Regions from separate parts of the Homo sapiens genome. Here region 1 is linked to region 2. Evidence: fine-mapped expression QTL. A gene starts in region 2. The other region holds a variant in brackets. All regions are shown on one strand. Distances are between the middles of the regions.

Region 1 (14,966 bases), 680 kb after region 2:
AGTAGCTGGGACTACAGGCACCCGCCACCACGACTGGCTAAGTTTTTGTATTTTTAGTAGAGACGGGGTTTCACCGTGTTAGCCAGGATGGTCTCGAACTCCTGACCTTGTGATCCACCCGCCTCAGCCTCCCAAAGTGCTGGGATTACAGGTGTGAGCCACCGCGCCCGGCTGAATTTTTCTTTTTTTTTTTTTTTTTAAAGACGGAGTCTTGCTCGCTCTGACTCCCAGGCTGAGTGCAGCAGCACAATCTTGGCTCACTGCAACCTCCACCCTTCTGGCTAGAGCAATTCTCCTGCTTCAGCCTCCCGAGTAGCTGGGATTACAGGCACCTGCCACCATGCCCGGCTAACTTTTGTATTTTTAGTAGAGATGGGGTTTGACCATGTTGGCCAGGCTGGTCTCGATCTCCTGACCTCGTGATCCACCCGCCTCGGCCTCCCAAAGTGCTGGGATCACAGGCATGAAGCACTGCGCCCGGCCTGTCTTCTCCTTTTGTTCGTTATGAATCATGCCGCCTCGAACACGCGTATGGACCTGTGTTTTCCTTTCTCTGGGTAGAGACCACGGCGTGGAATGGTTTGGTCACAGAGGAACCCCCAGGCTGTTTCCGCAGCCTGACTGGTAGCTCTGACGTCCCAGCCAGGCTGTCCGGGGCCCAGGGAGAACGAGGTGGAAACTTGCAGATGCTCCCTGGGTGGAATCATTGATCCGGACGATGACTTATTCATGACAGCAGCTTGGTGGGGCCAGAAATTTCCATGGATTCCTGTTATAAATAGGGCTGGTGTGAGCACCTGGCTGCAGGGCCGGGCGGGAGGTTTGTCCTGTGATTGCTGGAGCCCGGGAGTTGGAAGCTGCGGTGAGCTATGATCACGCCACTGCACTCCAGCCTGGGCGGCAGAGGCAGATCTCATCTCTATTTTAATTAATTAATTTATTTTATTTTATTTTATTTTTATTTATTTATTTATTTATTTATTTATTTTGAGACGGAGTCTCGCTGTGTCCCCCAGGCTGCAGGGCAGTGGCGCGATCTCGGCTCACTGCAAGCTCCGCCTCCCGGGTTCACACCATTCTCCTGCCTCAGCCTCCCGAGTAGCTGGGACTACAGGCGCCCGCCACCACGCCTGGCTAATTTTTTGTATTTTTAGTAGAGACGGGGTTTCACCATGTTAGCCAGGATGGTCTCGATCTCCTGACCTCGTGATCCACCTGCCTCAGCCTCCCAAAGTGCCGGGATTACAGGTGTGAGCCACCGTGCCCGGCCCTATTTATTTTAATATTTATTTATTTATTTATTTTGAGGCAGAGTCTCACTCTGTCACCCAGGCTGGAGTGCAGTGGTGTGATCTCGGGCTCACTGCAACCTTAGCCTCCCGGGTTCAAGAGATTCTCCAGCCTCAGCCTCCCGAGTAGCTGGGACTACAGGTGCCCGCAACCACGCCTGGCTAATTTTTGTATTTTTAGTAGAGACGGGGGTTTCACCATGTTAGCCAGGATGGTCTCAATCTCCTGACCTCGTGATCCGCCCACCTCGGCCTCCCAAAGTGCTGGGATGACAGGCGTGAGCCACCGCGCCTGGCCTCAGCGTATTTATTTATTTATTTATTTGAGAAAGTGGGTCGTTCTGTTGTCCAGGCTGGAGAGCAGTGGTGCAATCATAGCTCACTGCAGCCTCAACCTCCTGGGCTCAAACAGTCCTCCCGCCTCGGCCTCCCGAGTAGCTGGGATCACAGGCACCTGCCACCACGCCGGGCTAATTTTTGGGTTTTTCATTACAGGGTTTTGCTATGTTTCCCAGGCTGATCTTGAACTCCTTACCTCAGGCGATCTTCCCACTGCGGCCTCCCAAAGTGTTGGGATTACAGGCATGAGCCACCACTTCTGGCCCCCTGTTTTCCATTATTTTGAGACCCCCCCAAATATTTAATGCCCAGATAAGTGGTGACCCGCCCCCCCCCGTGGACACACACTGCTGGCTGCCCTTCCAGCACTCACTGACCCCAGGGAAGGCTTGGGAGGCCCCAGAAGTGGATCCCGGGGAGGGGACTTGGGCAGCCCCCAGCTCAGGCCACCAGCATGGTCTGGGGGAGTGTCTGTAGGGGTACAGTCCTCACTCTGGACTGCTCCGCCACATGCATGAGTCACCTGTCCAGGCAGCACCCAGAGTGGACAAAACATAAACCATGGCCTCCCCATCTCCAGCACCATCTGTCTGGCTTAGCAGGAAACAGGGTTTGCAACCTCAAATTGAGGGTTCCAGGCCAAACCCTCAGATTTGCTCAGAAATATCCTAACATGGGCCGGGCGCGGTGGCTCACGCCTGTAATCCCAGCACTTTAGGGGACCAAGGCGGGCGGATCATGAGGTCAGGAGATCAAGACCATCCTGGGTAACACGGTGAAACCCCGTCTCTACTAAAAATACAAAAAATTAGCTGGGCGTGGTGGTGGGCACCTGTAATTCCAGCTACTTGGGAGGCTGAGGCAGGAGATGGCATGAACCTGGGAGGCGGAGCTTGTAGTGAGCCGAGATGGCTCCGCTGCACTCCAGCCTGGGTGACAGAGCGAGACTCTCAAAAAAAAAAAAAAAGAAAAGAAAAGAAAAGAAAAAAAGAAATATCCTAACATGGCCAGGCACAGTGGCTCATGCCTGTAATCCCAGAACTTTGGGATGCCAAGGCAGGCGGATCTCGAAGTTAGGAGTTCAAGACCAGCCTGGCCAACATGGTGAAACCTGGTCTCTACTAAACATACACAAAATTAGCTGGGCGTGGTGGCACCCACCTGTAATCCCAGCTACTCAGGAGGCCGAGGCAGAAGAGACGCTTGAGCCTGGGAGAGATTGTCCCACTGCATTCTAACCTGGGTGATAGAGTGAGACTCCATCTAAAAAAAAAAAAATTGCATTTTATTTTGAACAAATGAGTTTGTCCAAAGACACCATTAAGAGACTCAAAAGGGGCCAGGCACTGTGGCTCATGCCTGTAATCCCAGCACTTTGGGAGGCCGAGGCGGGTGGATCATGAGGTCAGGAGTTCAAGACCAGCCTGGCCAACATGGTGAAACCCCGTATCTACTAAAAATACAAAAATTAGCCGGGTGTGGTGGCAGGCGCCTCAGAAAAAAAAAAAAAAAAAAAAAAAAAGAAGAAGACTCAAAAGGAAAGTGCCAGACTGGGAGAAGGTACTAGCTAGCAGTGCATAATGTAATCAAGGACTCAGGTCCAGAATATATAAAGAACTCCCACAAATCAACAGGAAAATAAACAAACCAATTTGTTTTTGTTTTTTTTTTTTTTTTTGAGATGGAGTCTCGCTCTGTCACCCAGGCTGGAGTGCAGTGGCAGGATCTCGGCTCACTGCAACCTCTGCCTCCCAGGTTCAAGCGATTCCCCTGCCTCAGCCTCCTGAGTAGCTGGGATTACAGGCGCCCGTCACCATGCCCAGCTAATTTTTTGTATTTTAGTAGAGACGAGGTTTCACCATGTTGGTCAGGATGGTCTCAATCTCCTGACCTTGTGATCCGCCTGCCTTGGCCTCCCAAAGTGTTGGGATTACAGGCATGAGCCACTGCGCCCTTATTTTTTATTTTGTTTTGAGATGGAGTTTTGCTCTTATTGCTGAGGCTGGAGTGAAGTGGTACAATCTTGGCTCACTGCAACCTCCGCCTCCCGGGTTCAAGCGATTCTCCTGCCTCAGCCTCCCGAGTAGCTGGGACTACAGGCATGTGCCATGGCACCCGGCCCTAATTTTTGTATTTTTAGTAGAGACAAGGTTTCACCATGTTGGCCAGGCTGGTCTCAAACTGCTCACCTCAGGTGATCTGCCTGCCTTGGCCTCCCAAAGTGCTGGGATTACAGGCCTGAGCCACCTGTGAATTTATTGAGGGTGTTGGGAAATACCAGCCACAGAGGAGGATGCCTTGGTCACCTACTCAGGCCAGGATCACCCACCCCCTCTCCGGTGAGAGGCTGAGCACAGAGAGGTGGAGAAACTCACCCATAGCACCGAGGCCATCAGGGGACAGCCTGAGCTCTAACCTGCATCCAGGGGCCCTGGAGCTGGTCTCTCCCTGGCAGATCCCCAGAGCCGGCGCTATGCTTTAGGAGCCAGGAGCCAGTCCTCAAGCTCTTCAGGACTGTCCGGCCCCCAGCTGGCCATGCCTCGCTGCTCCTCACGGGCTGCCGGGCAGGAAACCAGAGCTCTGTTCTCGGATAGGGCAGGAGGCTGAGGCCAGGTGGGTGGGGCACCCAGCCCCTCACTCCCAGGCAGCCCCCTTCTCCATCCCTCTATCCCGCCAGCATTTGCTCCACACCTGCCCCGTGCGGGACTGGGGCTGGGCACAGCCTCTGGTGGCCTCATTTGGCTTGGGGTTGGTGTCCTGGGGACCCTGACTGGGGGGCCCTCCTGCTTGCCTGCACAGCCGGAAGTCTGAATCTAGGCCCCACGGGCCCCTTCTCTGGTTGAGACTCCATCAGCTGCGCAATCCAGTTTCCTCAGGCGGCTCCCTCTGGGCCTCAGTTTGCTGGTCTGTGAAATGGGAATAATAAACATTTTTTGCTGGGTGCAGTGACTCACACCTGTAATCCCAGCACTTTGGGAGGGTGAGGCGGGCAGATCACCTGCAGTCAGGAGTTCGAGACCACCCTGGCCAACATGGCGAAACTCTGTCTCTACTAAAAATACAAAATTAGCCGGGTGTGGTGGCATGTGCCTGTAATCCCAGCTACTCAGGAGGCTGAAGCAGGAGAATTGCTTGAACCCAGGAGGTGGAGGTTGCAGTGAGCCGAGATCTCACCACTGCACTCTAGCCTGTGCGACAGAGCAAGACTCCATTTCAAAAAAAAAAAAAAAATGAGCCCATGATTTTGTTCTCTCCCCTGGTCACCCTAAGTAGAGATGGAGTCTCTCTACGTTGGCCAGGCTAGTCTCCAACTCCTGAGCTCAAGTGAGCCTCCTGCCTCAGCCTCCAGAAGTGCTAGGATCACAGGCATGAGCCACTGAGCCCTGCCCAGCTATTTATTCTGCCATATTTACTGAGCAACAGCTGTGTGATGAGGGGAGCGTTCACCAAAGCCTTGAAAGAAGTGAAGAAATGAACCCAGTGGGTACCTAGGGAAGGGAAACCAGGCAGAGGACATGGCCGTGCAAAGGCCCTGGGGCCGGACCTCACCTGGGGAGGCAAAGGCCCTGGGGCAGGACCCCGCCTGGCAAGTTGGAGGAACAGGGAGGAGGCCCGTGTGGCTGGAGCAGAGGAAGGGGGGAGACAGGGAGGAGGGAGAGTAGAGAGGGGACTGGGCAGAGGAGGGGGAGACAGGGAGGAGGGAGAGGAGAGAGGGGACTGGGCAGAGGGGGAGACAGGGAAGAGGGAGAGGAGAGAGGGGACTGGGCAGAGGAGGAGGGGGAGACAGGGAGGAGGGAGGGGGAGACAGGGAGGAAGGAGAGGAGAGGGGACTGGGCAGAGGAGGAGGGAGAGACAGGGAGGAGGGAGAGGAGAGAGGGGACTGGGCAGAGGAGGAGGGGGAGACAGGGAGGAGGGAGGGGGAGACAGGGAGGAAGGAGAGGAGAGGGGACTGGGCAGAGGAGGAGGGGGAGACAGGGAGGAGGGAGAGGAGAGAGGGGACTGGGTAGAGGAGGAGGGGGAGAAAGGGAGGAGGGAGAGGAGAGAGGGGACTGGGTAGAGGAGGAGGGGGAGATAGGGAGGAGGGAGAGGAGAGAGGGGACTGGGTAGAGGAGGAGGGGGAGATAGGGAGGGAGGAGGGAGAGGAGAGAGGGAGGAGGGAGAGGAGAGAGGGGACTGGGCAGAGGAGGAGGGGGAGACAGGGAGGAGGGAGAGTAGACAGAGGAGGGAGAGGAGAGAGGGGACTGGGCAGAGCCTTGTGGGCTGCACGGAGGACTTGGGCTTCTACCCAGAGGGAAATGGGAGCCATGGAGGGCTGTGGGCAGAGCAGGGACACCCCCAGTCAGCCTCACAGGCGCCCTCTGGCTGCTGTGGAAGAGCCACCGCACTCGGCCACTTCCGGCTAATTTTATTTATTTATTTTTATTTTTATTTTTGAGACGGAGTCTCACTCTGTCGCCCAGGCTGGAGTGCAGTGGCTCGATCTCGGCTCACTGCAAGCTCCGCCTCCTCCCAGGTTCAAGTGATTCTCCTGCCTCAGCCTCCTGAGTAGCTGGGACTACAGGTGCCCCCCACCACACCCGGCTAATTTTTTTGTATTTTTAGTAGAGACAGGGTTTCACCTTGTTAGCCAGGATGGTCTCAATCTCCTGACCTCGTGATCCGAGGGCCTCGGCCTCCCAAAGTGCTGGGATTACAGGTGTGAGCCACCGCGCCCGGCCCTGCGGGCTCTGTTTTCAACCTCTAAATAGTTGGTCAGGGCTGGGCTCGATGGCTCACACCAGTAATCCCAGCACTTTGTGGGGATGAGGCAGGAGGATCACTTGAGGAGTTCAAGACCAGCTTGGGAAACATGGTGAGAACCCCATCTCTACAAATAATTTTTTTTTAGATGGAGTCTCACTCTGTCATCTCTACAAATAATTTTTTTTTTTAGATGGAGTCTTCCTCTGTCACCCAGGCTGGAGTGCAATGGCTCAATCTCAGCTCACTGCAACCTCCACCTCCCAGGTTCAAGCAATTCTCCTGCCTCAGCTTCCTGAGTAGCTGGGATTACAGGTGAACGCCATCACACCCGGCTATTTTTTTTTTTTTTTTTAAGTAGAGACGGGGTTTTGCCACGTTGGCCAGGCTGGTCTTGAACTCCTGACCTCAAGTGATCCACCCGTCTTGGCCTCCCGAAGTGCTGGGATTACAGGCGTGAGCCACCGCGCCCGGCCCTGTCCAGGCTTTCAAGGAGCACTAAGCAAACACCATCCGGTTACGGGAATGAGAAGGTGAGAGTGGCGGCAGGTGCGTTTTCTCCCTGGCGGGGCGAGGGCCGCGGCTGCATCCTTGGTGTTTGCCGCCCTCTGGTGGCAGCGTGCATCGGCTCCTCTCCGGCTCACACCAGAAAGTCACATGGAAGTCATTGTCTGGTGACAATTCGTTAATTTACTTGGTCAGAACCAACATTCATTCTTTTTTTTTTTTTTTTTTTTTTTTGAGACGGAGTCTCGCTCTGTCGCCCAGGCTGGAGTGCAGTGGCGCGATCTCGGCTCACTGCAAGCTCCACCTCCTGGGTTCACCCCACTCTCCTGCGTCAGCCTCCCGAGTAGCTGGGATTACAGGCGCCCACCACCACGCCCGGCTAATTGTTTGTATTTTTAGTAGAGACGGAGTTTCACCATGTTAGCCAGGATGGTCTTGATCTCCTGACCTCGTGATCCGCCCGCCTCGGCCTCCCAGAGTGCTGGGATTACAGGCGTGAGCCACCGCACCTGGCCTCAACATTCATTCTTATTCCTCACTGATTTTCACCAGGTGCCCGGTGACCCTCATGACGTCCCCCAGGGCAGGGATGTCAATGTGGCGACTTCACTTACAGATAAGGACACTGAGGCTGGGAGAGGGGTAGGCCTTGCCCAGGGTCCCTCAGGGGCATGTGGCAGAGCTGGGAATCTGTCCTGGGCTTGGAGCCTGAGCTCCCAACACCGAAGGAACCTGAGGATGCTGTGTGGCACCTGGAACCAGCTGAGCCTGAAGCTGGCCCTACATTGATGTTTCAGTTACGGGAACCCATAAAGCCTAGTTTTGCCAAAGTCAGTCTGAGTTATGTTTGCTTGTGTCCTCTCCTAAATCTCTTTATTTTATTTATTTATTTATTTATTTATTTTTGAGACGAAGTCTTGCTCTGTTGCCCAGGCCGGAGTGTAGTGGCGCGATCTCAGCTCACTGCAACCTCCATCTCCCGGGTTTAAGTGATTCTCGTGTCTCAGCCTCCTGAGTAGCTGGGACTAGGCACGCGCTACCACGCCTGGCTAATTTTTTTTATTTTTATTTATTTTTTATTTATTTATTTTTATTTTTTGAGATGGAGTCTCGCTCTTGTTGCCCAGCCTGGAGTGCAATGGTGCGATCTCGGCTTACCACGATCTTTGCCTCCTGGGTTCAAGTGATTCTCCTGCCTCAGCCTCCCGAGTAGCTGGGATTACAGACACCTGCCACCACGCCCAGCTAATTTTTTGTATTTCCTAGAGACAGGGTTTCACCATGTTGGTCACGCTGGTCTCAAACTCCTGACCTCAGGTGATCCACCTCCTGCCTCAGCTTCCCAAAATGCCAGGATTACAGGCATGAGCTACCATGCCTGGCCCCTGCAGGGTTAATTAAAATGGAGTTGAGGCCAGGTGCAGTGTCTCACGCCTGTAACCCCAGCACTTTGGGAGGCTGAGGCGGGTGGATCATCTGAGGTCTGGAGTTCCAGACCATCCTGCCCAACATGGAGAAACCCCGTCTCTACTAAAAATACAAAAATTAGCCAGGCGTGGTGGTGGGTGCCTGTAATCCCAGTTACTCCGGGGGTTGAGGCAGGAGAATCGCTTGAACCCAGGAGGCAGAGGTTGTGGTGAGCTGAGATTGCGCCGCTGCACTCCAGCCTGGGCAACAGCGTGAGACTCTGTCTCAAAAAACCAAACAAACAAAAAAGAGAATTCTCCTCCTTTCCCTGGCATATCATGATACACTGAGCCAGGAGGAAACCAGGAAAGAATATGAACTCCCTCCTGCTAGCAGCGAGCGCCAGCGGACAGTTTTGCCCGCCCCAAAGGCCTCTGTGATTGCTGTGATGTCCGCAGACCTTCCAGACACGCTCTCCCGCCCCTGGAAATTTCACTAGGAATTCGTCTAAACCTCTCACAGAGTAACTTCTGGAATGTGTCTGCTCAGCAGGCAGAATTCTGTCTGATTTTCCAAGGGGCTGACTCATTACAGGAATTAAACTAAATCTTTTTTTTTGAGCACAGTCTTGCTCTGTCGCCCAGGCTGGAGTGCCGTGGCGCGATCTTGGCTCACTGCAACCTCCGCCTCTCGGGTTCAAGCGATTCTCCTGCCTCAGCCTCCCGAGTAATTGGGATTACAGGTGCGCACCACTGCGCCCGGCTAATTTTTGTATTTTTAGTAGAGACAGGGTTTCACCACATTGGCCAGGCTGGTCTCGATCTCCTGACCTTGTGATCCGCCCGCCTCGGCCTCCCAAAATGGTGGGATTACAGGTGTGAGTGACTGTGCCCGGCAAACTAAATCTTAAAAAAACAGGACAGAATAGGCCGGGCGAGGTGGCTCACGCCTGTAATCCCAGCACTTTGGGAGGCTGAGGCAAGTGGATCACCTGGAGTCAGGAGTTCGAGACCAGCCTGGCCAATATGGAGAAACCCTGTCTCTACTAAAAGTACAAAATTAGCTGGGTATGGTGGGGGCGTGGGCCTGTAATCCCAGCTACTCGAGAGGCTGAGGCAGGAGAATCACTGGAATTCAGGAGGCAGAGGTTTCGGTGAGCCGAGATCACGCACTCCAGCCTGGGCAAATGGAGCGAAACTTTATCTCAAACAAACAAAAGGACAGAATAATACAAGATGAAAGTGCACATTTTCTTTTTATTTTTAAATTAATTAATTAATTCTTTAGGACGGAGCCTTGTTCTGTCGCCCAGGCCGGAGTGCAGTGGCACAATCTTGGCTCAGTGCAACCTCCACCTCCTGGGTTCAAAGGATTCTCCTGCCTCGGCCTCCCGGGTAGCTGGGATTACAGGCGCCCACCACCACACCTGACTATTTTTTGTATTTTTAGTAGAGACGGGGTTTCACCATGTTGGCCAGGCTGGTCTCAAACTCCTGACCTCAGGTGATC[C/T]GCCCGCTTCAGCCTCCCAAAGTGTTGGGATTACAGGTGTGAGCCACTGCATCTGGCTTCTCTTGGTCTTCTGCTGAGTGAGCAAGTCCCCAAGGACTTGGGGACAGATGTGAGGTGGAGCCCTGAGTGATTTGCTGAAGTGACTTCTGGGGTACAGGGGCTACACTGTTGGAGTCTGCGGTGTGTGGCAGGCTGGGTTATGTGGGGCTCAAATGTCTGAGCCTCGGTCTCTCCTCTGGACAGCAGGGTGGGGTGCCTTCAGGAGCAGGACCATCCGGGCTGTTACTGTAGCTCCTGCTGCCCCCCACCCCGCTCTTGACTGAGGGGTCTGCGGGCAGCGACACCAGATCCCACTGGCTGGGCTCACCCTTGAGCAGCAGAAGCTGCATCCTGCTTCTGAGAATTCTTTATGGCACAGGACAAAGAAAATCATGGCTGAGAGGAGAGCAGGTTTTAAGAATTTAGGATGAGGGCCGGGCGTGGTGGCTCACGCCCATAATCCCAGTAATTTGGGAGGCCGAGGCGGGCGGATCACCTGAGGTCAGGGGTTTGAGACCAGCCTGCCCAACATGGAGAAACCCCGTCTCTACTAAAAATACAAAAATTAGCCGGGCGTGGTGGCGGGCACCTGTAATCCCAGCTACTCGGGAGGCTGAGGTGGGAGAATCCCTTGAACCCGGGAGGCGGAGCTTGCAGTGAGCTGAGATGGCGTCACTGCACTCCAGCCTGGGCGACAGAGCGAGACTTCGTCTCAAAAAAAAAACAAAATACAAAAAAACAAATTTAGGATGAGACGGGGAGGGAGGAAAGCAAAAATCATGGAAAAAGAGAGAGGTCAGGAGGGACAGAAACAGGGAGATAGACGTGGAGAGAGAGGCCTGAACACCAGAAATGGACAGACAGACAGGAGAGATAAAGGGCTGGGGACCTGGTGTTGGGTCTGGAGGATAGATCGTGGCTTCCGATCCAGAGTTGGGGGTGGACATCACTTCCTGCAACGAAGCAGGCGGTTCTTCTTGAACCCAGCGCCCAGGGGCAGTGAGGGGCATTACGGGGTCAGGGGAGACCCTGCCGAGCCTCTGAGAACTGAGGCCGCTGTGGGACCATCTTGCTGGCAGGACGATGGGCAGGGTGAGGTGACCGTCCAACTGGGATGATGTGGGAATAATGCACCCCTTGGTGACGCGGTGTCTGGCAACAGGCCACAGCCAGGGCCAGGGACACTGAAGACGGGGACCCTGGCCGCACACAGAGCCTTGCCCTTTGGTCTTGGCAGGGGGCTTGTGCAGGGCACAGCCTGTGCAACAGTCCTGGCCGGCCCTGAGCAGAGGTGACTGAAGAGTCACGGAGAAGGGGGATGTCGAGATCCTCTGGTGGGCAGAACAATGGCCCCAAAGACATCCCTTTCCTAATCCCCGGGACCTGTGGCCGTGTCACCTCTCGTGGCAGAAGCACCTGCAGATGGGACTGAGTAATGGACCGTGAGACAGGAGAACATCCTGGGTGACATGGAGGCCCAGTGTCCTCATAGGGCCCTCACGAGAGGAGGCAGGAAGGTGAGCCTGAGAGAGACAGGGAGAGATTGCCTTTTTTTTTTGAGACAGAGTCTCACTCTGTCACCCAGGCTGGAGTGCAATAGCACGATCTTGGCTCACTGCAATCTCCACCTCCCCAGTTCAAGTGATTCTCCTGCCTCAGCCTCCCAAGTAGCTGGGATTACTGGCATTTGCCACCAGGCCCAGCTAATTTTTTGTATTTTTAGTAGAGACGGACTTTCACCATGTTGGTCAAGCTGGTCTCGAACTCCTGACCTCAGGTGATCTGCCCGCCTCGGCCTCCCAAAGTGTTGGGATTACAGGCGTGAGCCACTGCGCCCAACCATGTCTGCTGTTTTAAGTCATTAGGTGGGTGGTGATTTGTTATAGTAGCCAGTGGAGGCTCACACATCCTCAGAGCACAGGGACAGAGGGACAGAACATGGGGCATCGGGGGAAGATGGGGTGGCAGACAGTGGAGAAACTGATGGGACTCACCCAGGACTGTGTGTGAGGCCCTCCCTTCCCGCAGGCCCCACGTTTGGTTCTTGGGGTTGGAATAGAATTGCCCCGACATGAAAGAAGTCACCAACTATGGCCACTGAGCCTCCCTCTATGGTCACATAACCTGCCTCCTCCATCAGACTGGGGTCCCCCGAGGGCAGATGCCTCCTCCATCAGATAGGGTCTCCCTGAGGGCAGAGGCCTCCTCCGTCAGACTGTGGCCCCTCTGTGGGTAGATGCCTCCTCCGTCAGACTGGGGTCTCCCTGGGGGCAGGGGCCTCCTCCATCAGCCTGGGATCTCTGTGAAGGCAGATGCCTCCTCCATCAGACTGGGGTCTCCCTGAAGACAGGGGCTCTCCCTCCTCCCTCAGTCTCTGCTCTGCCCAGATGTAGCCCCTCAGCCCCCTTCCCCCGCCTCCCCAGGGTCCCCACAGCCCCCACTGCCCAGCTATTTCGGTTCCACATCTGCCTGCCTGGGCCCGGCGTGGCTGCGCGGTTTTCCCTGAGGCAGCGCAGCGGACACTGAGCAGCCAAGGAGGAGACACTGGCCTAGGTGTAATTAACACCCGCTGCTCCCAGCAGGGTTGGGGGAGCCTGGGGGCCGAGGCCTGCTTTGGGGGGTGTCTGAGGACACGCCCCTGCCATCAGGCACTGAATCCAACGTCAATGGTCCCCATGTGCCGAGAGCTTTACGTAAATTAACTCCTACTGCCCGGGAGCCTGGTCCTATCGTTATCCCTGTGTGTCAGAGGGAAACTGAGGCATGGGGCAGTGAGAGGACCCCCCCCCACCCAAGGCCACACAGCAGGCAGCAGAGCCAGGACTTGGGTCCAGCGCCCACGCCTCTGACCAGTAGGATCTGGCTTCCCTGGATGTGAGCCTGGTATACATGCGGAGCCGAATTAATGACCCTCCGGCCTCCTCTGAGACCAGAGTGGTGAGGGATTCAGCAAATGCTTAATAAGCACCCTGGGTACTGCGATGGACGTGGTGAGACGGGGCTGGAGGAGCCGGGCTGGTGAGGTTGGGCCCCGGGCCTGGTGTTGCTGAAGGTGCCTCTCCATGATCAATTGTCAGTCACTCAACAAGCATCAGCTAAGCACCTACTGCATGCAGATGCTGGCAACCCCCCCATGGGAACCTGACAGCCCCACAGGCTCACGGCCTAGCGGGGTGGAACCTAATGTCGCCAAGAAAATGAAACAGAGAGTGGAGGCCCAGGGGACTTTGTCCGGACCAGGCAGGGACCAAGGCAGGCAGCTCACTCCAGGTTTATTTCAGGGCAGTTTGGGGGTGGGGGACAAAGACCCCCCTCCAGCTCCTAAACTGGGTCACTTTTCTCCCAGGTGAAGGGGACCATCCTCATGGGATCCTATCGATGTGAGAGCTTTGTGTCCACCAGGTGTGGCTGGGTGCACCAAGGTGAAGGGTTTGAGGGCTGCACAGGGACCCCCAGCACTGGGAGTTTGGCCTCCTCCCTCAGACTGGATGGTTTCCCAGGGTTGGAAAGGGGCAGGTCTCCCCTCTCAGCTTGGGACTTCTCAGAGGGAGGAGCTGAGTGTCTCCTCCCTCAGACCCGCAGCCCCTCAAGGTGCTGCGATCTGTGCCACCCTCTTTGACCGGTCCCTCTGCCCTCAGACTAGCGGAAGCAAATTACACCTGAAAGTGGAGGAGCGGGTCTCTTTCTTTCTTAGACCCAGGGCATTTGGCAAAGTCTTAGAAGCAGAAAGAATCAGCAGGGGTCCCATTTCATCCCCAAAAGCTTTAGACCCCAAAGGCAGAAACATTTCTAAAGGAAGATAGAAACGGAAACGAAAAACCCAACAGTCCCAAATGTGCCCATGGTGGGATTGTTGGCAGATGAGCTGTGGTTCTTGGATCCTGGACCTAGGACCCATTTCCTAGGGTGGGGGCTTGGCGATGGTCTTGGCAGTTCCCACGAGGGTCAGGGCAGGGCAGGGGGTGGGCGCCCCATCCCGAGGCTCAGTCATCCTCCTCACTGGCGTAGATGCGGGATTCCCAGCGCTCTGCCATGGCGTTCTTGTGACGGGTCACCCGTATGGCTTCCAGGACCTGCAAAAAGGAGGCATGAATTCCCCCGATCCAGGTCCTACCACACCCCCAAGATGTCTCCTCCAACTGCCAATTCATTAGAGAGGCCTAGAACGGGGGTAAAGTAGGATCCCCTCCTCTGTTTCAGACCCTCTACTCCTAGTAATATGATCAAAGAATATGCTAACTCATGCTGAGCTCCAGGGCAGGAAAAATGTCTGTATTTGGCTTTTTTGTTTGTTTTTGAGATGGAGTCTCACTTTGTTGCCCAGGCTGGACTGCAGTGGCGCGATCTTGGCTCACTGCAAGCTCTGCCTCCCAGGTTCACACCATTCTCCTGCCTCAGCCTCCTGAGTAGCTGGGACTACAGAGGCCCGCTACGGCGCCTGGCTAATTTTTTGTATTTTTAGTAGAGATGGGGTTTCACCATGGTCTCGATCTCCTGACCTCATGATCCTCCCGCCTCGGCCTCCCAAAGTGCTGAGATTACAGGCGTGAGCCACCGTGCCTGTCCAATGTATTTGGCATTTCGGATTCAGCTCAAAGAGGGGTCAGGCGATAGTGGCTCATGCCTATAATCCCAGAAATTTGGTGTGCTGAGGTGGGAGGATCCCTTGAATGCAGGAATTCGAGACCAGCCTGGGCAACCTAGTGAGACTCTGCCTGTACAAAAATAAATAAATAAATAAATAAAAATAAACTATCTGGGTGCAGTGGCACATTCCTATGTTCCTACTTGGGAGGCTGAGGTGGGAGGATTGCTTGAGCCCAGGAGGTCAAGGTTGCAGTGAGCTGGGACCACATCATAGCACTCCAGCCTGGGTGACAGAGTGAGAGCCTGTCTCAAAAAAGTAAAAATAAAAAAAAATAAAAATAAAAAGGAGGGCCACACACGTGTGCCATAAACCGACTGAGGGGGCTTGGCTTGAATAGTCTCAGATGCATACCTTCCTCAAAGAAAGTGCCTTTGGCTGGGTGCGGTGGCTCACACCTGTAATCCCAGCACTTTGGGAGGTGGAGGCGGGAGGATTACCTGAGGTCAGGAGTTCGAGACCATCCTGGCCAACATGGTGAAACCCCATCT
Region 2 (11,769 bases):
GGGGGAGGGAGGCCACGTGGGGACGAAGCTCCGAGGTGGGCGGGGTTGTTCGGTGGGCAGTGCCATATGCAAGTGGGTGGGGCGTGTGAGGTGTGGGCAGAGACATATGCGGGTGGGCGAATTAGAGGGCAGAGCCCGCTGGGGACCGAGTCATGCTCCAGCTGCCCGAGGCTGGGTTCCCACGCCCACTCACCGTTCCCGGTCCAGTTCCTCCAGCAGCCGGATGGTGGCCCGGCTCAGCTCCCCAAAGCTGTCCTTGGAGGGCCCGGAGCCGTGTACTGGGCTGCCCTCGGGGGTCCGGGCGGCAGGCTCCGGGCCCAGGGTGGGCGGCTGGAACTTGAGGTTGTACAGGCTGGTGATGTCCATCTGTAGGGCTGGATGGGCGGGGACAGGGCGGAGGTCAGCGGCCCTGCCTGCCTTTCCCCCCAGCCTCCCCCACTCCCTCTGCGGGTGGCCCCACCGCTCACCCTTCAGCTGCTCCAGCACCTCCGTCTGCCCCGAGGACACCAGCACTCGGGCCTCCTGCTCCAGTTTTCCCTGTAGGTGCTTCAGGACCTCCTGCAGGGGCGGGAAAGAGGGCGGGAAGCCATCAGCCACTGCACTGGGCTGCCGGGGGGCACCACCCCGGGACCCTAGCCCACCTCCTCCATGTAGGCCCCCACCTTCATGCCCGACGTCTCTGTCTCCAGCTTGGACAGGTGGCTGGAGTTGTCCCTTAGCTCCTGCCTCAGGTGGCTGTTCTCAGCCTTCAAGGCCTCCACCTGCCTCACCAGCTGCTCGTAGGGCGCCACGGAGCTCGCCATCTTCAGCTCCTGCAGCGTCTGGGATCACAGGGTCAGAGGGTTCAGCTGATGGTCTGGGGAGGGCGCGGTGATGCCTTCCGGACAGACGGCCCCTGACCTAAGCCCCAGCCGTCCTGCCTGATCCTGGGTTGGGGGGGGTCTCAGGCAGGAGTCACTGGTGTGGACAAGTACAGGCCCACGTGGTGGTGGCCAGGCAATCCGGGGCGCAGAGGGGCAGGTGGAGTGAGAGGTGGCCCCAAGGGGAGACAGAGGGGCCAGCAGACAGACGTACAGACAGCTGAACGTCCAACTGACCAGTCGACCGACAGACGATGGGTCGGCCTCTCCTTCCCAGCCCCCAGGACACATCCTGACAGCCGGACAAACACACAGACAGCTGGGACAGCCTAACCCAGCAAGCCGACTGGCCAGCCCAGCACCCCCAGGCTCACAGCCAGAGAGGGCGACAGACAGACAGACAGGACCCTCCCCCATAAAAGCAAGCCTGCCCAGAGGCTGACAGCCAGACACGCGGGGCGGACAGACCACCAGCTGTCCCTGCCGATGGACAATGAAAACACCACGAAGGCCAGTGGGTGACACCTAAGCTGTGCAGAAACGGCAGGACAGATGGACCCAAGCCCACCGCCATCACCGCAGCAGCCCCACGACCCTCCATCGGTGGCTGAGCTCAGGGTGGCTACCTGTGTGGCCCGCACCCCCTGCGCAGCCTTCAGCTGGTCCCTGCTGGCCCCGGCAGCCCCTGCCCCATCCCTTGACTCTGCCAGCGCGCTGGCTTCTTTGTGCCTCTGGCCGTCTTCTGGCTCTGGCCTGGCCTCCTCCCTCTGTCCAGCTGGCCGGCGCCTCCTCCCTCGGCTCGGCCCTCCCGCCGGAGCCCCCCTTCACGCCCCCCTTCCCTCTTTGTTCCTTTCCCATCAGCGCTCGCCTCCTCCCTCCGCCTTTGTCTCAGACGCACCAATGGCAGCCCATCCCTCTGCCACCTCCCCCTGCCAGCCTGAGCCCCTTCCTCACACCGGCCCTGTCCAGCCCACCTGCTCCTCCCCTCCCTCCTCCACCTGGCCACACACATGTATTCACCCGTCATTTGTTCTCTGACCCCCAGGTGCCCCCTCATCCCCTCCCCTCCCACCCAAATGTCACCAGGGGCACGGCTGGGACAGGAGTAGGGGTGGGGGCTCAGTCGCAGGTGGGAGGATGGAGTCGGGCTGTCCCGTCCTGCTCAGGGGACGCAGTGTGTGGCTTGCCATGTCATCCGGCTCCTTCTTGGTCTGTCCTGAGTCTCAGGGACCACCATTTGGCTGTTCCCAGAGGGAGAAACGAGGCCCTAGGAACCGAGGTCTGGCACCCAGATGCTGCCCCAGAGGGGCTGGGAAGTCCAGGCTGGAGGCCCGACAAGACCCGCCCCTCTCTGGCTTTGGGTTGCCCCTCTGAGGAACCTGCAGGGCAGGAGTGCCCAAGGGCAGGGTGGGAGGGGCACAGGGACTGGAAGTCAGGTGGCAGAGGCTGGCACCTCCCACCCTGATCCGATGATGTCCAAGGCTGTTCAGGTCTCCAGTGGGGATCAGGCTTGGGGTTGGGGGCTACACGCAGGGAGACCCTGGGGTCTGGCTCGAGCCCCATGTTCCAGCTGAGGTCACCATCCCATGCCCAGCCAGGTGGAAGGACCAGATGACGTGCAAAGCAACACATGTCTGCCTCCTGCTCCCCAAACCCAGGCCTCCCCCACGTGGTTCTTCTCAGCTGACCGAAGCCAAGCCTCAGACACCTTCCCTCTCCCCACATTCGGTGGTCATTTCTGCATCCTCATCAGACTAAGCTAGTCCCTCCAAGCTCTGCCCAGCGGGATCATGCCTCCCCCAGCTCCTGACACCCCTCTGTGAGGACATTCTGATCAGCCTCTTCCTGGCCTCCCACAGTCCCCCATGCACAGCCAGAGGGAGCTTTAAACGTCACAAGTGAGATCCCATTTCTCCCATGCTCAAACACCTTCCATGGCTCCCCAGTGCCCTCAGGATACGCTCCGACTCCTCCATGTACACCGCGACTCACTTAGAGGCTGGAGGCTCTCTTCTCTCAGGCCTTTGCACGTGCAGTTGCCCTGCCTAGAGCACCTTTTCTAAGTCCTGCCATCCCACACAGTGCAGCTTCTTCCACGAAGCTCTTCTGCCTACTTTCACCCCCAGGTTGCATCGTGTAGCCTCCTGGGGGCCTTCCTGAGCGATCACTCCCTGAAGGCACCATGACTGGGGGCTGGTCTTATTGAGCGGGCTGCATTTCAGGGGAGGGAGGCACAGGTATGGGAAGCCAGGCCCAAAGGGGCCTTTCTCCTTCCTTTAATCCAAACCCCCTCTTTCCAGAGAGGGAAACTGACACCCAGAGAGGTGCAGCAACACCCCCGAAGACACACCACTGGCCTGCCCATCCCTTCCTCCGATCACCTCAGGGAGGTCCGGATGGTGAAGCCCGTGAGTGGGTGTGTGCGCAGGACCGGCTGCAGAAACGCTGACGCCCAGCTCACCGGGACTCAGTTTCCCCTCCAGCTCCCACTCTGGGGAAATGGAGGGTCCAGAGTCTGTGCTGACGGGCAATGCTGAGAGCCAGGGATGGAAACCTCGACGCGAGGCGGAGGTCGCGCCCCTGCCCTCCTCCCCGAGGACACACACCCGCTTACGTGCAGCTGGGCTGGCGGGGCGCCTGGGTCTGGGGCCTCCTCCCTCTGCGCGGCTCCGCGGGCCCCACCGGAAATCCCGGCCCGGGGTGGCCTCGGAGCGCGCGGGCTCCGGGGTCTCCGCGGCGCGGGCAGGGGCTCCGGGGCGGACAAAGCCCGGTCCGGGCCTGGGCAGGCGGCGCTGCCGCTCCTAGCGCTGGGCGAGACCACCGCGAGCGGGGGAGGATGCGGGATGAGGGATGCGGGTGAGACAGCCAATGAGGGCGCGGGAAGACGGGCTGGTGCCATGGCAACAGCCAATGGCGGCCCGGGGCGGGGACCGGCGTCGGCCGCGGGGCGTCGGGCCTCCGCGCGGGCTCAGGGGCCGTGAGTGCGGGGGGCGAAACCCCCCCGAGGGAAGGGGGTGCCCCGAGGACCAAGATTCCTGTGTCCCGCACTTTATTGCAGGGTGCAACGGCCTCTTAAAACCTCCTGCGTCTGGATTTGCAGAATTGGAGAGTAAAACATCAAATCCTGGATGTTACATCAGCATCTTGGCGGGGGAGGGGTTTCCAGGGCAGTGGCCGGGCTGGGGCCAGGCCTGCACCCACCCCACAGGTCCAGCCTGGCCTGGTGCAGGTGCGTCAGGGTGGGACAGGGTTCGGGTCCAGGCTGGAGCTCCCTGAGGGTCCTGCCTGGTGGGGAGGGGAGAGGGGAGGAGGGGCAGGGCCACTGGGGAGCACCTGGGACGCTGCATCTCCCCACATTTCTCCCTGTCTCCCCAACGGAGCGTCAGATCCTCCTGTAACTCCGTTGCTCTTCATGTCCCTCTCTCTTTCTGTCTCCCCCTCTGTTCTCTGTCTCTCAATCTCTGTCTCCATGTGTCTCTGCCCCTGGTGGGTGGCACACTTAATTCACCCTCACGGACCGAAGGCCAGAGGAGGGAAGGGCCAGGGGTCCCAGGAGTCGCCATCTCCAGGTGTCCTGGATGCTCCATGAGTCCCTGGAAGCCATTTGAAGGTTTAACACACAGAGCCCGTCCCTGCAGCTCGGAGCAGCCCTTCCTGCTCTGGACACAGACTCACAGCACAGAAAGGGAGGCGACTGGGGCCAGAAGAGTGATTTTTTTCCGTGCTGGGCAGGCAGGGCAAATCATTCGCCGCTCAACCCTCGGTTTCCTCCTCTGTAAAATGGAGAGGAGGCGGAAGATTCTGCAAGGGCTGGTGCAGGGAATGATAGGAGAGGGTGGGAAGGTCCGAGTATTCAAGGCCCCGTAGACAAAGGCAAGGGAGGACCCGTGCTGTTTCCTGTTGGGCCTTGAGCTGAAGACCCGAGGGCCTTGTCCCGGGCCAGCACTGCCAGGGGCTGAGAGCCCTTCGGCCTGGCTGTCTGGGAGCCCCCAGAGCTGGACGCAGCTGTCCCCACTGGTTGGGTCTGGGGAGGCAATGCAGTGGGCAGACACAGGGGATCTTTTCTTTTTTCTTTTTCTTTTTTTTCTTTTTTTTTTTTTTGAGACGGAGTCTTGCTCTGTAGCCCAGGCTGGAGTGCAGTGGCACGTTCTCGGCTCACTGCAAGCTCCGCCTCCCAGGTTCACGCCATTCTCCTGCCTCAGCCTCCCGAGTAGCTGGGACTACAGGCGCCCGCCACCACGCCCAGGCTAATTTTTTGTATTTTTTAGTAGAGACGGGATTTCACGTTAGCCAGGATGGTCTCGATCTCCTGACCTCGTGATCCACCCGCCTCGGCCTCCCAAAGTGCTGGGATTACAGGCGTGAACCACCACGCCCGGCCTTTTTTTTTTTTTTTTTTTAGATGGGGTCTTGCTCTGTCCCCCAGGCTGCAGTGCAGTGGCGCCATCTCGGCTCACCGCAACCTCCGCCTCCTGGGTTCAAGTGATTCTCCTGCCTCAGACTCCTCAGTAACTGGGATTACAGGCATGTACCACCTTGCCAGCTAATTTTTGTATTTTTAATAGAGAGGGGGTTTCACCGTGTTGGTCGGGCTGGTCTCAAACTCCTGACCTCATGATCCGCCCGCCTCGAAGGGGATTTTTTTCTGGAGGCTGGAAGGCTGCCCTGAGAAGTGAACAGCAGTGATCAGGAGGAGAGGCGTTCCAGGCTGAGGGAAGATCAATGCATGCTTGGGACACAGGGGGTGTCTGGTGGAGCCATGGGGTAGGGCGCGTGGTGGGGTTTGACAGGTCAAGCCGGGGCAGAGCTGGGCGAGGCTGAAATGGGGTTGGGGATGCAGAGCCCAGGGCCCTGGCTTCAGCTCAGCCTTGTTGTCCCTGTGTCCCCCTGGGCATGTCTCTCTCTGGCCTCGGTTTCCAGTCTTGTTTACTGAAGGGTGGGTTGGATGATCCCTGCCTCCCCCAAAGAGGAACTAAGTCCCACCTCCCTGTGTAGTTTCAGATGTCTCAGCTCCCCAGGCCCCCATCAGGCAGGGGTTTGGGGGATCCAAGGTCAGTCCTGTCCTTGTATACATGGGGAAACTGAGGCCTGGGCCAGGGAACGTGTTGCCTGAGTTCACCTGTGCCAGCCAGGCCTCCGGAGTGACACTGAACCTCCCTTCTTATCCCTCTGGGGGTGGCCAGGGCCTGGAGGGCTGAGGGTACATGGGGGCTGAGACCCCAAGACAAGATGCCCTTGGCCCCAAATCTACAAAACATTATGTCCCTGAACAATCCCCCCCCACACACTAAAATCCTCGACCCTGTAAATCCTTGAACCACAGCCACACTCAGACATCACCAGACATTTCAGAGCCTCAAGAACCCCCCACAGCCCCCTAGGACTTCAGGAGACTGAGAGAGGTCTCCCCCTTCTCCCACTGCAGAACGCAGGGCCTAGCCCAAGACCCCGACCTAGGCTCCTCCCTGGGGTCCTCCACGCCCCCTACTGCTGCTGGGCTAAAGGGGAAGTTCCATGAAATGCTCACTCCCCCACCCCTGTCCTGTGACACCTCCCCGCAAGTCCGCAGCCTGGCACACGGCTCACTCTTGGAGTGTCTTTGAGCCTTCTGAGTCTGACCTCGAGCTGTCCCCGCCCCCTTGATGCCTCCTCTGTGCCAGGGGCTAGAGGCAGAAACAGGGGCGGCCCCCATCGGGAGCTGGGTGGGGACAGAGAAGGCACCAGGTCATCGCGGGAGGATAGAGACGGCCCGCCGCCGGCTGGGTGGCCGGGCAGAGCCCTGACCGGTGAGGAGGCCACCGGAGGTGGGGGAGGGTGGGGTAGGCCGGTCCAGGCCGCGCCCTGAAGCCTGACCGCCGCTATGGGCCTCAGTTTCCCCGGCGGCGAGTCGGCAGACGTGCGCCTCCGTCAGCACCGCGGACAGCTCCCCGGCCCCCGCCCCGCGTTCTCTTGCGGGCGCCTTAGCTCCGCAACGAGGCTCCGGCCTCGAAGCGTGACCTTGGGCTCCCCGCTGCACCCCCCAGCCTCAGTTTCCCCTCCAATGAGGGATGTCACAGCCGCGAAATTCAGACGATTCCGGAGGCTGGAGAAGCGCTGGGGTCGGGAGCGGACGGATACGAACAGCAGCGGCGGCGAACGTCAAAGCAGGCCATACGCTCGCGCCCAGAAGGGGAAACTGAGGCCCAAAGAAGCGCAGGGCGTGGCCCAGGCCCCCACCCTGCGCAGGGCCGAGCCTCCGCAGGATGCCCCCGCAGCCGCCCCCGCCGCCCCAGCTGGCGCAGCCTCCGCGTCGGCGCAGTGAGGAGGGGTCCGAGGGTCTCCTGCAGAGGCCGAGGGCTGGGCTGGGCGAGCCCTGCGCTTGCGCAGACCCGGGGCTGGGGGTCGCAGCGGCGCACGAGAGGGGCTTCCATCCCCGCCAGCCTTCCGAGGCGGTTTCCCGGCAACGGTCTCTACGGCGACGGCACTAGACCCCCGACTCTGCAGCCTCCGCGCGCTCGCCCCATGCGCCCCCCGCCGCCGCGCCCGCTGTTCCCGCGGTGTGGACCCCGCCCCGTTCCTGCGCGGCCCGGAGCCCTCCCCAACGGCTCGACCCACGCGCCCTACCTGGTCCCCGAAGAAGGCCGAGTGCAGCAGGCTCAGGAGCCCCAGGAGCCCCATGGAGCCGCGGCCGCCCCGGACCCGCCGCGCCCCGCCCCTCGGCGGCCAGGGTGGGGGTGCGGGACGCGAACGGGGCCGCCCTGCGCCTGCGCGGAGAGGGGCGGGAGGGGTCAGTCCGCGGGCCCGGGGCGGGGCTCCTCCCGAAAGGGGCGAGGGCGTACCGTGGGGTCTGGGGGTGCTCGCGGGGGCTGGGGAGTCTCGCGGGACCGAGGCTGCGGAGGGGCGGTGGGAGATCCAAGGATGGGAGAGAGGGGAGGGGACTCGCGTGGGCCGAGCGGCGCCAGGGTCCGGGTCCGACCACGCTGGGGAGTTCGAATGCGGAGGAGGCTGGGGGGGCCCGAGGCGGCGGGGAGGAGGCCGGGTGGGGGTGGGGGCACGAGAGGTCCCACGGGGAATGGGGGTCGCGGGGGGCCAGAGGCGGCGTCGCCATGCGGCTGTGGTCCGCTGCCCGCGGACGGTCACCCTGCGGAAGCTCGGAACCACCCCCGAATCAGCCCGGCTTGGCGCGCTGAGGTTCATTAGTCATTCAGCAAACATCACCTGCGCGCACAAGGCTTGCTGGGCGCCGAGCTGGGCGCGCGGGGGGCCGCCGTAAGGGGGCGACACCGAACGCGGACATTCATGCAACAAGCATTTATAAAGCACCTACTGTGTGCTGGGTCCCCCTGCACTGAACAAAACAAAATCCAGGCCCTTGGGAAGCTGACGTGAACGAGGGGACTGCAGCGGGCTGGGAGAGACGCCAGCGCGGCGGGCAGGGCATGGGGAGCTGCTGGGGAGGCCGAACAGCCCTGGGGAGTGTTGGGGGAGAGTGCAGCCCGCGAGGGCAGTGAGGGCTGGGAGGCCCCGGGGGGCAGGTCGCGCAGGCCCAGCGGGAGGTGGGAGCCACCGCGGGCTGTGGACAGAGCAGGGCCGCGCCCGGCTCCAGGCTCGCGGGCGCCCGCTGGCGGCTGCGGGGAGAACAGGCCGTGGGCGGTGCCGGGAGAGGAGGGCGGAGGCGGCTGCGCGGGTCGAGGGCCGGATGATCGGGCGGAAGATGCGGCCCGGGCAGGATGGGGGCTAAGAGGGGTGTTATGAATTGTGCAAAGTCCCTGGAAACCAAAGAACGAGCGGCCGGAGAAAGGGGCGCCGCTTTAGCAGGGCGGCGGGGACAGGCCGCCTCCAGCAGGTGCCTCAGCTGAACCCTGGAGCGGGGACGGAGCCGTGCGGCTGCCGGGGAGGCTTCGGGGCCACCCAGGACTCCTCCTTCAGAAGTCAGGGGAGGGCGCCGAGTTCAGTGTAAACTGCCGTCCAGGGGGGAGGCCGCGGGGATGTGAGAAGCGCCGGGAACCAGGACAGGGCCTGAAGGCAGCTGACCCGCAAGCGCCGGGGCCAGACCTGAACCTGATGAGGACGGAGCTGTCTGTCTGAGACGGCACAGATGGGGCCGGGCAGGTCTGGGAGAGTCCATGCAGATTCTGGAGCGGGGTGTGGGACCAGAGGGTAGAAACAGAAGCGTGGGGCCGGGCACGGTGGCTCCCGCCTGTAATCCCAGCATTTTGGGAGGCCGAAGCGGGTGGATCACTTGAGGTCAGGAGTTCGAGACCAGCCTGGCCAACATGGCAAAACCCCGTCTATACTAAAAATACAAAAAATTAACCGGCGTCTTGGCGCATGCCTGTAGTCTCAGCTAGTCGGGAGGCTGAGCAGAATCGCTTGAACCCAGGAGGCGGAGGTTGCAATGAGCTGAGATTCTGCCAGTGCACTCCAGCCTGGGCGGCAGAGCTAGACTCCGTCTCAGAAAAAAAAAAAAAAAAAAAAAAAAGAAGTGCGGATATGGCCAGAGAGGCCTAAAGACAGAGCCTGGGCCTTGAGTTGGGAGTGGCCCTCGACAGTGGCACCCTAGTGCTAGTTAGAGGCTCCCACCCCACCTCCTGGACACCCCCCAAATTCTTGTGGACCTAGGGCACCACCTGGCCACCAAGACATGTGTCTCTCTGAACTGGGGGTATCTTTTTGCTTTAAATACTAATACATATTTTCCCTGATCACACATGCTGGATTCCAACTGCAGAAAACCAAGGGAAGTACCCATTAGCAGCCACGTGCTAGCCAGCAGGGGCGTGTGCAGGGAGGGCTTTTATGGACAGGAAACTTCCCGTAAAGGTCCAGACAGTAAATTTTCAGCGTCTGCCTGGCAGAAGTAATACAGGTATGAATGGGCACAGCTGGGTGCCAGTAAAGCTCTGCAAAAGCGAAGTGAGGCCCAGCACCCATTCCTATTATGCTTTCCTCAGGGAGGGCCCCCTGGGGCTTGTTCCCAGCTAGCTGCCTCATGATGGGCGCGGCCCCACACATCTCTGTGTCATTTGCTCTGCAGATAGACCTGGTAGCTCAAAAGCTCTGTCATTTCCATTTATTTATTTTTTTCTTTTTTTGAGACGGAGTCTCGCTCTGTCCCCCAGGCTGGAGTGCAGTGGCGCGATCTCGGCTCACTGCAAGCTCCGCCTCCCGGGTTCACGCCATTCTCCCGCCTCAGCCTCTCCAGTAGCTGGGACTACAGGCGCCCGCCACCACGCCCAGCTGATTTTTTGTGTGTGTTTTTAGTAGAGATGGGGTTTCACCATGTTAGCCAGGATGGTCTTGATCTCCTGGCCTCGTGATCCGCCCGCCTCGGCCTCCCAAAGTGCTGGGATTACAGGCGTGAGCCACCGCGCCCGGCTCCATTTGTTTTTTTTAGACGGGGCCTCGGTAAAGACTTCAAGTGTGCACCATGGTTTCCGGCACTTTTGATTTCTAAGGCTCAGGGTTGAAAACCATGTTGCAGATAAAGCTGTTTCAGTGGGACATCCACTAATTTCCCACTTTGCTTATCTGAGGCGAAAAGCACCTAACACCTCAGCAATTTCTTTTTTTTTTTTTTTTTTTTTTGAGGCGGAGTCTCCGTCGCCCAGGCTGGAGCACAGCACTTTCAGAGGCCGAGGAAGGCGGATCACCTGAGGTTGGGAATTGGAGACCAGCCTGGCCAACATGGTGAAATCCTGTCTCGACTAAAAATACAAAAATTAACCAGGCGTGGTGGCGTGCTTCTGTAATCCCAGCTACTCGGGAGGCTGAGGCAGGAGAATTGCTTTAACCTGGGAGGTGGAGGCTGCAGTGAGCCGAGATCGTGCCACTCAACTCCAACCTGGGCGACAGAGCGAGACTCTGTCTCAAAAAATAAAAAGAATTCTGAATGCTGACAACCGAGACTACAATGAACCCTGCCTACACATGCCTTCCCTCCCTCTCCTTGAGCTGGACCTGGGGTGGGCCTTCGAAGCTGGGTCCCGTACAAGCTTCTGCTGTTCACGCTGAAGTGAACCTGGCCAGTGCTGCCCAGAGACCTCCGGCGGCCACCTAGCAGCCAGACTGTAGCAGGATGAGCCACAGACAAAACTCCTGACACTGGATTAAAGAAGAGGTTTTTATTCGGCCGGCAGCATCAGCAGACTCGCGTCTTAAGCTCCCCGAAAAAGAGATTCTTGGCCTTTTTAAAGGCTTACAACTTTAAGGGGTCCACGTGAAAGGGTCGTGATACATCAAGCAAGTGTGGAAAACGTGAGTGGGGGCTGCATGCATCAGCTAACACAACAGAAAGTTTTACAATGCTTTTTCGTAGTGTCTGGAATTTACAGATAACACAAGTAGTTTAGGTCAGTGGTTGATGTTATTATTACTTTTTTTTTAACTCCTAGGGCCGGGTGGTGGTGCCAAGGTTGTCTGTTTATCTTACTTTTGCATTTTTTTTCCAACTTTTTGCATTTTCTCTCCTCCTGTCTTGTGAACTAGGCAAGGTGGTGGGAGGAAGGCAGCAGGAGTAGTAGTGGTCTCCTTCCTTAAGACCACACTCCAAACTTTGGACCGTTGGTTTCAAGCCCGGTGGGTTCAGGTCAACCCACAGGCGAATTTTCAAACATTCTACACATCTCAGGGGCTGCCAGCCAAGACTTGCCCCCACTTCTGACTACCCAGCCAGGTCCAGGCCCTCAGTGGCCTCCCCGGTCTCCTTACTTCCTGGCAGGGTTGGCCAGGGCGCCCGGTGCAGTGGAGGGCTTGAGGCACGACCACGTGCAGCACCGTCCCACTGGCTACGGGCCCCTCTGGACACCAGCCAGGCAGGTCCAGTCCCACCGACTCATGCTGCCTGGGGGTCTCCCGGCTGTACTGGAGCCAAGCTTATAACCCTGGGCCATCCTTCCTCTGTCCAACCCACCTTTTCCCAAACAGAGAG

What was found. PIP is the estimated chance that this variant, and not a neighbour inherited with it, causes the effect.
Region 1: its variant is fine-mapped to the expression of APC2 in cerebellar hemisphere (GTEx, PIP 0.95).

Annotation. Positions count from the first base shown.
Region 1 is chr19:762,438-777,403 of GRCh38, reverse strand. MISP (mitotic spindle positioning) reads right to left here. Exons shown (of 5, transcript NM_173481.4): 5 at 13,086-13,903. The coding sequence ends at 13,814. Among named protein-coding and RNA genes, the nearest start is that of LINC01836, 13 kb to the left of the region's middle. The variant C/T (reference allele first, on the strand shown) is at 9,792.
Region 2 is chr19:1,442,036-1,453,804 of GRCh38, reverse strand. APC2 (APC regulator of Wnt signaling pathway 2) reads right to left here and starts at 3,684. Exons shown (of 15, transcript NM_005883.3): 1 at 3,467-3,684; 2 at 663-821; 3 at 468-558; 4 at 194-374. The coding sequence starts at 803. RefSeq lists enhancers at 1-529, 530-1,161, 1,162-1,795 and silencers at 3,638-3,837, 6,581-6,875, 7,525-7,574, 8,035-8,134, 8,185-8,574.